Linked DNA regions of Homo sapiens: region 2 is linked to region 1. Evidence: fine-mapped expression QTL. A gene starts in region 1. The other region holds a variant in brackets. All regions are shown on one strand. Distances are from middle to middle. Region 1 holds the start of PAK6 (p21 (RAC1) activated kinase 6). Region 2 overlaps BUB1B-PAK6 (BUB1B-PAK6 readthrough).

Region 1 (5,364 bases):
AAAGTGCTGGGATTACAGGCGTGTGCCACTGCGTCTGGCCTATTATTAGTTTTAAAAACATACATTCCTTTATTTTTACTTTTGTATTGTTTAAATACAACAGTACATGTTCACTGAAACAATGCAAGAGTGTAAAAAGTCCAAAGTGAAAGACCCCTCTCACCACCACTCCTATTTCCAAGGATAACCACATTGACAGTTTGCGGTTTAAACATACAGATATAGAAATATCTTTAAATAAAAAAACTTATATGAGATTATGCCATCTCATTTTCAAGTTAACATTGATAAACCTGGTCTTTTTGCTCAACTATCGTGGTCATCCTTCCTCATACATACGTATGTACATGCATACCGGTACACACATAGCTGGTACATACATACCGACTGACAAAACTCATTCATTTTAAGGCTGCAGATACTTCATTGCATGGGGATGTACCATCCTGTATAGATCTGTCACCCAATTAATCTGCCCAATTGATGCACATTTTGGTGGCTTCAAATTCTTTGCAGTTACAAACAGTGCTACCATGAATATTCTTATACAAATATCTTCAGGCCGATGTGCAACTATTTCTTAACTTGGATTCCTAGAAGTGCATTTGCTGGATCAAGTACATACACATTTTGAAATTTTGGTCAAGACTGTAAAATTGCCCTCCAAGAAGACTGTACCAATTCACTCTCCCACCTGCCATTTTTTTTTCACTGTATAATGACAGGGAGTGGTATATCCCTTTTGTTTTAGTTTGCATTTCCTGGATCATTCCTTAGTGAGACAGAGCAGAAGTGGATTATTTATAAGTTTACACACAAAATTACATTGAGATACAAAAAGAAGAAAAATACAGAGTTCCTCTCCAAAAGGAACTGATAACCTAGTTAAAGGGAAAATGTTTCATATTGACCACAAATTGAACTTTTTTTTTCTTTTGAGACAGAGTCTCGCTCTGTCGCGCAGGCTGAAGTGCAGTGGCACAATCTTGGCTCACTGCAACCTCCGCCTCCCGGGTTCAAGCAATTCTCCTGCCTCAGCCTCCCAAGTAGCTGGGATTACAGGCATGTGCCACCACGCCCAGCTAATTTTTGTATTTTTAGTGGAATGAGGTTTCACCATGTTGGCCAGGCTGGTCTCAATCTCTTGACCTCATGGTCCACCCGCCTCAGCCTCTCAAAGTGCTGGGATTACAGGCGTGAGCCACTGTGCCTGGCCACAAATTGAAATTCTTATGTTTAATGCCATGACATCTAACACTGCGTTCAATCAAAATGTCTACGCATGCAGCTTGAGACCTTTGCACAGAAGGTGCCTAGGGTCATGATTTGGGAAGATTAATCTGCCATCAGTGGAGGGGTGGATAAAAACTAATGTTTATTGGGATCAAGATGAGCAGTCTCTGTGCCAGAAACTTTATTCCTTTAATTTCCACAGCCCTGTGAGGCAGGTGAAATCATCCCCATTTTATGGATGAGGAAATTGAAGTTCAATTGGTTCAATAACATGCCAAAGGTCACTCAACTGATGAACAGTGGAGCTGAGATGCGGAAGACTGAAGACTCACAGCCTGGACTTTTAACCAAACACCACATGGCTTCGCTACAGAAGAAAGTTAGAAAGTTTTCAAAAATAAAATGTAGAGCCAAGTGCCACCTTGGATATAAGGGACTGGGGGACGGGAAGAGGCAAGAACTCCCAGGCTTCCCTCTGGCTGTCAATAGCTAGTGGGTCCTGGCAGTGGGAGCTGGGCCATCAGAGGTGGCGCCTGAAGTGGGGCAGGCACAAAATGGGTTTTCGGGCAAGCATTTGCCCAGGTGATGGTCAAAGCCACAGAAAAAAGGTGTTTTGATGGAGTGGTGGCTGAGTGTGGGGAGAGATGAGCAGGGGACCAAGCCTGGAGCTTGGGCAGCCCACGATTGGACACTAGGAGAAGAAAAGAAGCCAGTGGAGGAGACACTGAGGCTAGGGATGGGGAGGGCACTGTGGAAGGCTGGGCTCCACCTGGCGCTCCGGGGAGCTGGCAGGGGGGCACATCAAGGAGCTCAAGCTGCCTCACCAGCAAATGCCTCTGTTTCTGACCAGGGGCAATGAAATAAAGGGACCCGGTTGAGTAACTGGTTTCTGGTCCCTGCCAGCCCAGGAAGCCAGCACCCACCCTGCCTTACATCCCATGTGCCACTCTCAGCCTTCGAAGCAAAACCAGCTGAGACCAGCACCTGCCAGATCTGAATGCGCAGCTCCAAGTTCTGGGGGGTGGGGGTGGGGGTGAGCCAAGGAGGTCTGGCTTCTCTAGGGCAAGGGTAGGAAGGACAGCAGGGAGGCTCACCCTGAGCCCGGCAGGCAGCCCTTCCTCCTCCTCCCCTTCAGCAAAGAAAGGCAGATAAAAACGTGTTTTTATAAATAGCTCCAGCCCCAGCTGATTTGTAAATTCAGTGGGTTTTTTGTGTCAATGACATCACCTTCCTCCCCATGGCAACCCCCGACGATATCAAAATTGCCAAGCAACGTTGGAGCAGCTCGGCGCCCCAAACGAGCAGGTCGATGCCTGAGGATTTAATGGAGAAATCCCAAAGTGAGCCGGGGCGCGCGGTGGAGGAGGGGCGCGCCGCAGCCGGGGCCGCTGGGCCCTGATGGGCGGGAGCGGGGTGGAGCGGCCTCGCCTGCCAGGCAGCCCTGGGCGCGGGGCTCGGCGGCCACACTCTGGAGACAGCCACGGTCCAGGCAGGTGGGGGAGGGCGCTGCTCCCGTCCTGATGTGCCAGGAGCCGCCAGCAGCCATCCAGGTGACTAAGCCGGCCCACTAGCACTGAGTCACCGCCCGCCTCGAGCTGTTCTTGCTTCTCCTTTGCATCTGATTATTTTGGGAGCTGGAAACTTGGAGCTGCACCTGAGTCCCGCCCCTTCTAGCTCTCCCCTCCCTACCTTGGGCTCCAGGAAGATGGGACTTGCTGTGAGTCTGCTGCCACCCCCTAAAGATATGGAAGACGCTGTGGGGGCCAGAAGTGCCCGGGGGGCTGTGGCAGCAGGCAGAGTGCAATAGCAGATATGGTGGTCAGGCTGCCTGTGTGTGTCCTCTGGAGGTGTTGGGACAGAAGGGCAGTCTTGTCCGAGCTGACTGGAGTCCTCCCGGGCTGGCTCTGAACTCATCTCCCACGGGGATGTTTCGGTAAAGGAGTGGCTTCTGGGGTCGGAGTGGCATTTGGAGAGCGAGGCTGGATTGGCTTAGGCTGGCCTGGGCAGGTAGGTGGCTCTGTGTTGGGTGTGGACCCACGTGTGTGTGAGTGCGAGAGTGTGTAAGCCAGTGTGTGTGCCGTCCCCCTGCTGGGGACAGCAGCTGGGTCCAGCAGAGAGCTGGCTGGGGGCTTGACAGGAGTTTATCCTAACTGATGCTGGGTGGGCGCAGGCCCTGAGATGGGCGTCAGGGAGAGGGGACGCCAGACACACGGCCTGAGCAGGGTGAGGAGCAGCTGCCAGCCCCGGCAGGCCCAGGCCCTGTCTGGGTGCACAGGACAGAGACACAGCAAGATGCCCAGGTAGGAAGCCGTCCGGAGGGGCTGGCCAGGGTGAGAGCCCATCACTGGGGGGCTGGACAGCCCATCAGCTGCCCCTTCATTCTGGCAGGCCTGGGTACCAAGGAAACAGCTTCCTACCAAGAACCATGTCACTCTCTTATGCAGGGCCAGTCAGCACCCATGTGCGTCTCTGCTGAGCTCACAGGGACACATTCAGTGAGAAGGGTGCTGGCCAGGGTACGGCTTCCCCATGATCAGGACCCAGCGGGTGCCACCCTCAAGCCCCTGGTCCCCACAGGGCATGCCCCAGTGTGTGTCAGGAGGAGGGGGGAGGTCCCTTCTCCCCCACACAGCTGGCAGCTTTGCGGGCACCAGTGAGTAAGCTGCCAGAGGGAGGGAGGCTGTGTGCCCACAGTGGCAGGACAATACCAACCAGGAGCCTTCAAGAGAAGAGGCTGGGTGAGAAAAGCACTGAGGTTTTCTTTTCCTTTTTTTTTTTTTTTTTTTTTCTATTTTGCCTGAAGGGAGTGCCGCTTCCTGGGCTAGAGACAAGCACCAGCCTGCAGTGGAGAACGCAGGACCCCGCTGCCCAGAAGGAGCAGCCACGGTAAGGTCCCCACTGCCGCTGCGTGCTCCGGATTCCTGGGCTAGGGACGGGGGTGCCAAGGTGTCCAGGCTGCCTCCCACCTGGGACAGGGAGGCTAACTCCACAGCTGTGGGTTCCTGGGTCAAGGGGCTCCACTCCCCACCCGGCCTGCCACCTTCTTTCCAGATTGATTGTGAAACAGTCCAATCCCAGCTGGTCTCTGGCTCCCTAGCTAGAGGGAGAGGTGCTTGTTTCTACTCTTCCTGCCCCAGCTGGGCCAAGCCAGTGCCACCGGGACACCCCTATCCAAGGCCCCTCTCACTTTACCACCTCTGGGACATTTCCCTTGTGTATTCATTCCACAAATATTTAGGGAGCACTGCTGGGTCCCAGGCTCCAAGTCACACCCTTTGGCTGGGTTTGACCTGGCACAGATTCTGACTCTGAAACTCAGCATCAGGGCAGGTTCAGGGAGCTGCCTGGCCAAGCACGGTCACTCCTCACAGGCCTTGGTCTCCCCACCCCTGCTGCAGGGTGGATGACCTGGTCAGCTTTGGGGACATCGGGCCCAGTGAGCTCGGGTTTATAAAGCACTGGGCCCCACCGGGAAGCAAGGCTAACGTCTTGTGGTCTCCAGTTATCCTTTCCCTGGCATTGTACACCAAGAGGTTTGTGCCGTTCTGCCTGGGGTCTTCCTGAGGCTGGTTCTGGTGGGAACTGGGCTGCAGGAGGAGAGGATGAGCTTAGGAGCCGTGTGGCCCCCAGGCCTGGTGGGCCTGGGACTCAGCCCCACGGGAGCTCATCTAGCTGGGGTTGAGGCCTTTGGGGCAAGCAAGGAGTCCCCTCTGCAGGCAGGCTTCCCTGGCGGTTGTCCTGGCCCAGGCTTGGAGGTGGCACCTGGGAGCCCTAGTGACAGAGCGCCTGGTCAGGGAAGGGTCGGCACCAGAGGCAAGCCCTTCTGGGAGCAGCTGATTTGGATGGAAGCTCTGTGCACCTGAGAGGGGGAGTGTGGGGACTGCACGGCCTCTCCAGTGCCCCGAGGACAAACTGATGCTTTGTGAGTGCTCTGGGCCCTCCCGGACTTGCCAGACACAGGGAGGGTGCAGTGGGTGGGGTCTCCAGCCAAGGAAAGCCCGCTCTGTGCACAACTCCTAAGGATGACCAAAAAGTCCCCTGCCCTGGAGGAGCACATGTGCTCAGAGTCAGGAGGAACCCATAAGTGTCTCTCATGCCAGTGAATTCCCACACCTGGCTCCTGGATGAGGA
Region 2 (5,364 bases), 28 kb after region 1:
GGGGCTCCCTGATACATAATAGTCCCACACCGGGCAGCATGTCTGTGATCAGCTGGTTGGCTTTTTATTAACGTATCATATTAACAGGTTCAACCATCCTGGGACAAAGCTGAGTTGTAATAAAAAAAAAAAGCCAACAAAAAAATAACTTTAATATACTGTTGGATTCAATTCGATAGTTTTAAGATTTTCATAGTTACGTTCCTAAATGATATTGAGTCAAATTTTCCTTTTCTTGCACTCTCCTTATCTGGTTTTAAGAATCAAGGTCATACTCGTTTCATAAAACAAGCTTGCTAACTTTCCTCCCTCTTTCCCCATTTTTAAAATTCGTTGACAGACAGTGGAATGATACTTGTAATGGGCTTTGGATTTTATAAAAACACACCCCCAGAGTCTGCCTGCTCCATAGGGGACTTGGCACAGGCAAGAAGACACCTCTTTTCCTTGTTTATAGTCTGCACTGGCTTATTTATGGCACGTTTGTTGTTTCTGGGACTGTTCTGCTGGGAGCCAGCCATTTCCCTGAGGAAGCAGAGATGGAGGTGGAGGGAAGCCCTAGGCTTCTAGGGGAGCTGTGCTGGGGGAGGGGAGGGAGCCCTGAACCTGGTGCCCCAGGCCCTGCTGCAGCCACCCCTCTTTCCCGGGAGGGAGCTCAACCTTACTCTGCACTTACAGGCACCATGTTCCGCAAGAAAAAGAAGAAACGCCCTGAGATCTCAGCGCCACAGAACTTCCAGCACCGTGTCCACACCTCCTTCGACCCCAAAGAAGGCAAGTTTGTGGGCCTCCCCCCACAATGGCAGAACATCCTGGACACACTGCGGCGCCCCAAGCCCGTGGTGGACCCTTCGCGAATCACACGGGTGCAGCTCCAGCCCATGAAGGTAAGAGGGGCCGGCAGGGATGAGGTTCAGCCTCTCCCAGTACTCAGACAACCATGCCTGGCTAAACCTCAGAAAGGCCCCTGGAGGAACCACCTACTTCACAGCTATCAGTTAATCAGCTGTTTTAACTCCCTGCCTGTCAGCCTGCCATTCTCTCCCTGGGTAAGCCAGGGCGAAGGAGGCTGGGGAGACCCTCTCTGCAGGGTGGTGGGGTTGCCAGATTCAGCACATGAAAATGTGAGATGCTCAATTGCATTTGTATTTCAGATGACAACGAATAGTCTTTTAGGACGTGTCCCATTCAATATTTGGACCTGCAGCCCCATAGGGACTGAGGGCTCTCCCAGACCAGGAGAATTTTAGTTGTGAGGGTCACGACTAGTAGACCCAAGAGCCTGGTAGAAGGTGGGGTCAGGGGCCCTATCAGGGTTTGGAGGCTGCGAAGCCAGTGTGTGTGGAGGAGCCCCCGGCCTGGTGTCTCTTCCTCAGAGGGCTGGGCACATCTCTCCCAGCCACCCGTGGAGCTAGAGAATGGAGCCCCGCCCCCTGAGCTCCAGCTCCCTGGCCCAGCCGACCACACCCCTGGGCATGCTGGATGCAGCCCCATGGCACTCACCATCTGCTCTGCTGACGCTGGGCCTTCTCCCCGCATCCCTGCATCCAGCACAGGCGGGACCCACGGTGGGCCCTGATAAATTATGGAAAAATTAATGGGTGGATGACACAGCAGGGAAGGTCCTTAGGTGGTCCTCCCCAGGGCCCCCAGGGACATTCTCTGACCCTGATCTCCCAGCCACCCCTCCCTGCCACAATTGGGCAGCTCCCACACACTCTTTTCTCTTCCCCCTACAGACAGTGGTGCGGGGCAGCGCGATGCCTGTGGATGGCTACATCTCGGGGCTGCTCAACGACATCCAGAAGTTGTCAGTCATCAGCTCCAACACCCTGCGTGGCCGCAGCCCCACCAGCCGGCGGCGGGCACAGTCCCTGGGGCTGCTGGGGGATGAGCACTGGGCCACCGACCCAGACATGTACCTCCAGAGCCCCCAGTCTGAGCGCACTGACCCCCACGGCCTCTACCTCAGCTGCAACGGGGGCACACCAGCAGGCCACAAGCAGATGCCGTGGCCCGAGCCACAGAGCCCACGGGTCCTGCCCAATGGGCTGGCTGCAAAGGCACAGTCCCTGGGCCCCGCCGAGTTTCAGGGTGCCTCGCAGCGCTGTCTGCAGCTGGGTGCCTGCCTGCAGAGCTCCCCACCAGGAGCCTCGCCCCCCACGGGCACCAATAGGCATGGAATGAAGGCTGCCAAGCATGGCTCTGAGGAGGCCCGGCCACAGTCCTGCCTGGTGGGCTCAGCCACAGGCAGGCCAGGTGGGGAAGGCAGCCCTAGCCCTAAGACCCGGGAGAGCAGCCTGAAGCGCAGGCTATTCCGAAGCATGTTCCTGTCCACTGCTGCCACAGCCCCTCCAAGCAGCAGCAAGCCAGGCCCTCCACCACAGAGCAAGGTAAGTCAGGAGCCTGGCCTGCAGGTGTCCACTGGGGAGTGGGTGTA[G/A]GGACACAGGCCTTGCCTAGCCTTCCCCTTGGAGGACTGGCAAAGAGGCTCCCTGGACTGCTTCCGCCTAAGGCGGCAGAAATGTGCACGGTAACCTCTTCTCTAAGGAGGGTGGCTCGCCTCCTCCTTCCCTCCCTTCCTTTCCTTCTTTTCTCTGTGGCTGTTGTGTTGTTTCCCATTTCTGTCAGTATTTGTTCCCAAGTGTGTGGCCATAGGAAAAGCTGGATTTGCCTAGTCCAGGGGCAGCAGGAGGCCGACTTGTGGCATGTGTGACTGCTTCAGACGCACATTTTTCTTGTGAGAAAGGAAAGGGTGAAGGGAGCCCCCGTGGTGACATTTCTTGGCAGGCAGAGTGGAGCGCACCTTTTTGCTTCTTCCAGGCCCTCCAGCATCCTGTTGATAGTGACAGTAACCTCTTTTCCCATTTGGCAGAGGAGGAGACTGATAGAGAGAGGGTGAGTCACCCCCAGGCATGATGGAGAGTGAGTCAGAGAAGGAAGGTGGGGAGTGCTCTGGGGCTGCCTGTCCGGCCCGGGCCCTCTTGGCTCATGACTCTTGCGTATGAAGGCTTTACAAGCACAGCAGCCACTTGTTCTTTAGCTCCTTCCTGGGAGGGTCAAAGGCAGTCCTAAGAAACGGCTGCTGACAGTGGCATGGGTAATGGAGCCTCCCCTCCCTCCTGGGAGGGCTTTAAGACAAGCCTGGGTACTCCCCTGTCATCGGTGGGGTGAGTGTGGCCCAGCCTGCACAGGGTGTGGGTTTGGGGATGACCCGGACTACAACCTCTCTGGGTCACTGCCTGCCAGCTGAGGTACTCAGAGAAAGTTCTGGGCGGCCGCGCGTGGTGGCTCACGTCTGTAGTCCCAGCACTTTGGGAGGCCAAGGTGGATGGGTCACGAGGTCAGGAGATCGAGACCATCCTCGCTAACACGGTGAAACCCCGTCTCTACTAAAAATACAAAAAAAATTAGCCGGGCGCGGTGGCGGGCGCCTGTAGTCCAAGCTACTCAGGAGGCTGAGGCAGGAGAATGGCGTGAACCCGGGAGGCAGAGCTTGCCGTGAGCTGAGATCGCACCACTGCACTCCAGCCTGGGGGACAGACAGAGCGAGACTCCGTCTCAAAAAAAAAAGAGAAAGTTCTGAGCTTTGTGCACTCTAGTCCCCTACTAGGTTAAAGGACAGTGGGTTGGGATCCCCATGGGTTGTGGCTTGATGTATCTGTGAGAGGAACACGAGCATCTGTGAGCTGCAGGGTGTCTGGAAGGCTGTGCCCCTGGGGAGACTCAGCCAGAAAACCAACGTAAGATCAGGACAGTGCACCCTGCTGGGAAGGTGAGATTCGGAGCTTGACCTCCCTCTGTCTCTCAGGAGTCCTGCTGCGAGGCCTCAGGGATTTGGAGAAAGGGGTTGTCAACACTGGGCTGGGCACTCATTTGCATCTTTCTGGGCTCCTGCCAGCACCCCACAGCAGGGGGAGAGGCCTGTCCATCCCTGCACAATGTACTGAGTACTCACCATGGGCCACTGCTGCTGGGTATGCCGGGATGTCCCCCATACTTGTGGGAGCAGGCGGTAGTTATCTCGAGCTCAGCAACACCATACTTCCAAATCCAGGGGAGTGGTTTCCTTCTGGGCAACTCAGACACATCTTTCAAGATTTCTACTCTGAAGCCAAGCCTCTCAATGGCAAGCTGAGACCCCCCGAGCTGCTCCGGGCCGGGGCTTCTCAGCGTCCTCACTGCAGGCGCTCAGGTCAGTCCATCCTTTGTGGTGGGCTCTCCTTGCACTGTAGCAGCCTCCCTGGCCTCTACTCACTAGAAGTTGGTGGTACCCTCGGTTGGAATAACCAAAAATGCCTCCAGACACTGCCAAATGTCACTCGAGCACACCCATTAAGAACCACTGCCTTAAGCAAATTCAATAACAGATGGGGAGCATCAGCCTTCCTCCTCCTCCTCCACCACCACCTACCCCAGGAGTCCCCAGATCAAGCCAGCAGCCCTTGGCACTGGGGCTGACTCTGGACACTTGCAGCAGCTTCCATAACAGCAGTTAGGCCACAGAGGCCATGCAGTGTGCCAGGCATGGCTGCAGGAGGGTCTGAGTATAGACTCCAGGGCTCCTGTACCTAGCCCCAGGCAGTGAGGCCTGGAGTCACTCTAGCTAAAGAGATCAGGAAGACAGGGCGTGGGGGCACAGAGACCAAAGAGGCAAGACAGTTTTTTAGGAGCTTGCAGGGATTAGACATGTTCCACTTAGAGTCAGAAGGGCAAACATTGGTTAAGCACCTACCGTGTACTCCGATATATGTCAAGGATACATGGCACCAGTGGGATTGCAGCATGGGAGTCAGCAGCCACGGGCGTCCTGCGGGTTCCAGTGCCTACAGGACAACCAAACAACCCACAGGGTTATGAGGATTACATGAGATAGTACGTTGAAGGCACTTGTCAAAGTGGTAAGCCCTCAATAAATGGCTTTATTAGTAGTATTTGAGATGGCGTCTCCCTCTTTCGCCCAGGCTGGAGTGCAGTGGCACAATCTTGGCTCACTGCAACCTCCACCTCCTGGGTTCAAGTGATCCTCCCACCTTAGCCTCCCAAGTAGCTGGGATTACAGGCACGCTCCACCATACCCAACTAATTTTTGTATTTTTAGAAGAGATGGGGTTTCACCATGTTGCCCAGGCTGGTCTTGAACTCCTGACCTCAAGTGATCCACCTGCCTTGGCCTCCCAAAGTGCTGGGATTACAGGCACCTGAGCCACCATGCCAGGCCGGCTTTATTATTTTTAAAAATATTATGCCATGGCCTCTCCCCTTTAGGATACTTAAGGTATAGCCCCCTAAGCCCACAGCTGGGGAGCCATGGCTCAGGGCGGGAAATGAGGCATTGCTGTAAATGTATGCATGACTCTTCTAGTG

The links. PIP is the estimated chance that this variant, and not a neighbour inherited with it, causes the effect.
Region 2: its variant is fine-mapped to the expression of PAK6 in adrenal gland (GTEx, PIP 0.98).

Annotation. Positions count from the first base shown.
Region 1 is chr15:40,236,563-40,241,926 of GRCh38, forward strand. It overlaps PAK6 (p21 (RAC1) activated kinase 6), which reads left to right and starts at 2,501. Exons shown (of 11, transcript NM_001395430.1): 1 at 2,501-3,240; 2 at 4,037-4,119. The region is part of intron 1 of BUB1B-PAK6 (BUB1B-PAK6 readthrough); the gene reads left to right. LOC107984763 (a long non-coding RNA gene) reads right to left here and starts at 3,139. Exons shown (of 3, transcript XR_001751506.2): 1 at 2,923-3,139.
Region 2 is chr15:40,264,103-40,269,466 of GRCh38, forward strand. It overlaps BUB1B-PAK6 (BUB1B-PAK6 readthrough), which reads left to right. Exons shown (of 10, transcript NM_001128629.3): 3 at 679-887; 4 at 1,740-2,393. The coding sequence starts at 684. PAK6 (p21 (RAC1) activated kinase 6) reads left to right here. Exons shown (of 11, transcript NM_001395430.1): 4 at 679-887; 5 at 1,740-2,393. The coding sequence starts at 684. Among named protein-coding and RNA genes, the nearest start is that of PAK6-AS1, 14 kb to the left of the region's middle. The variant G/A (reference allele first, on the strand shown) is at 2,441.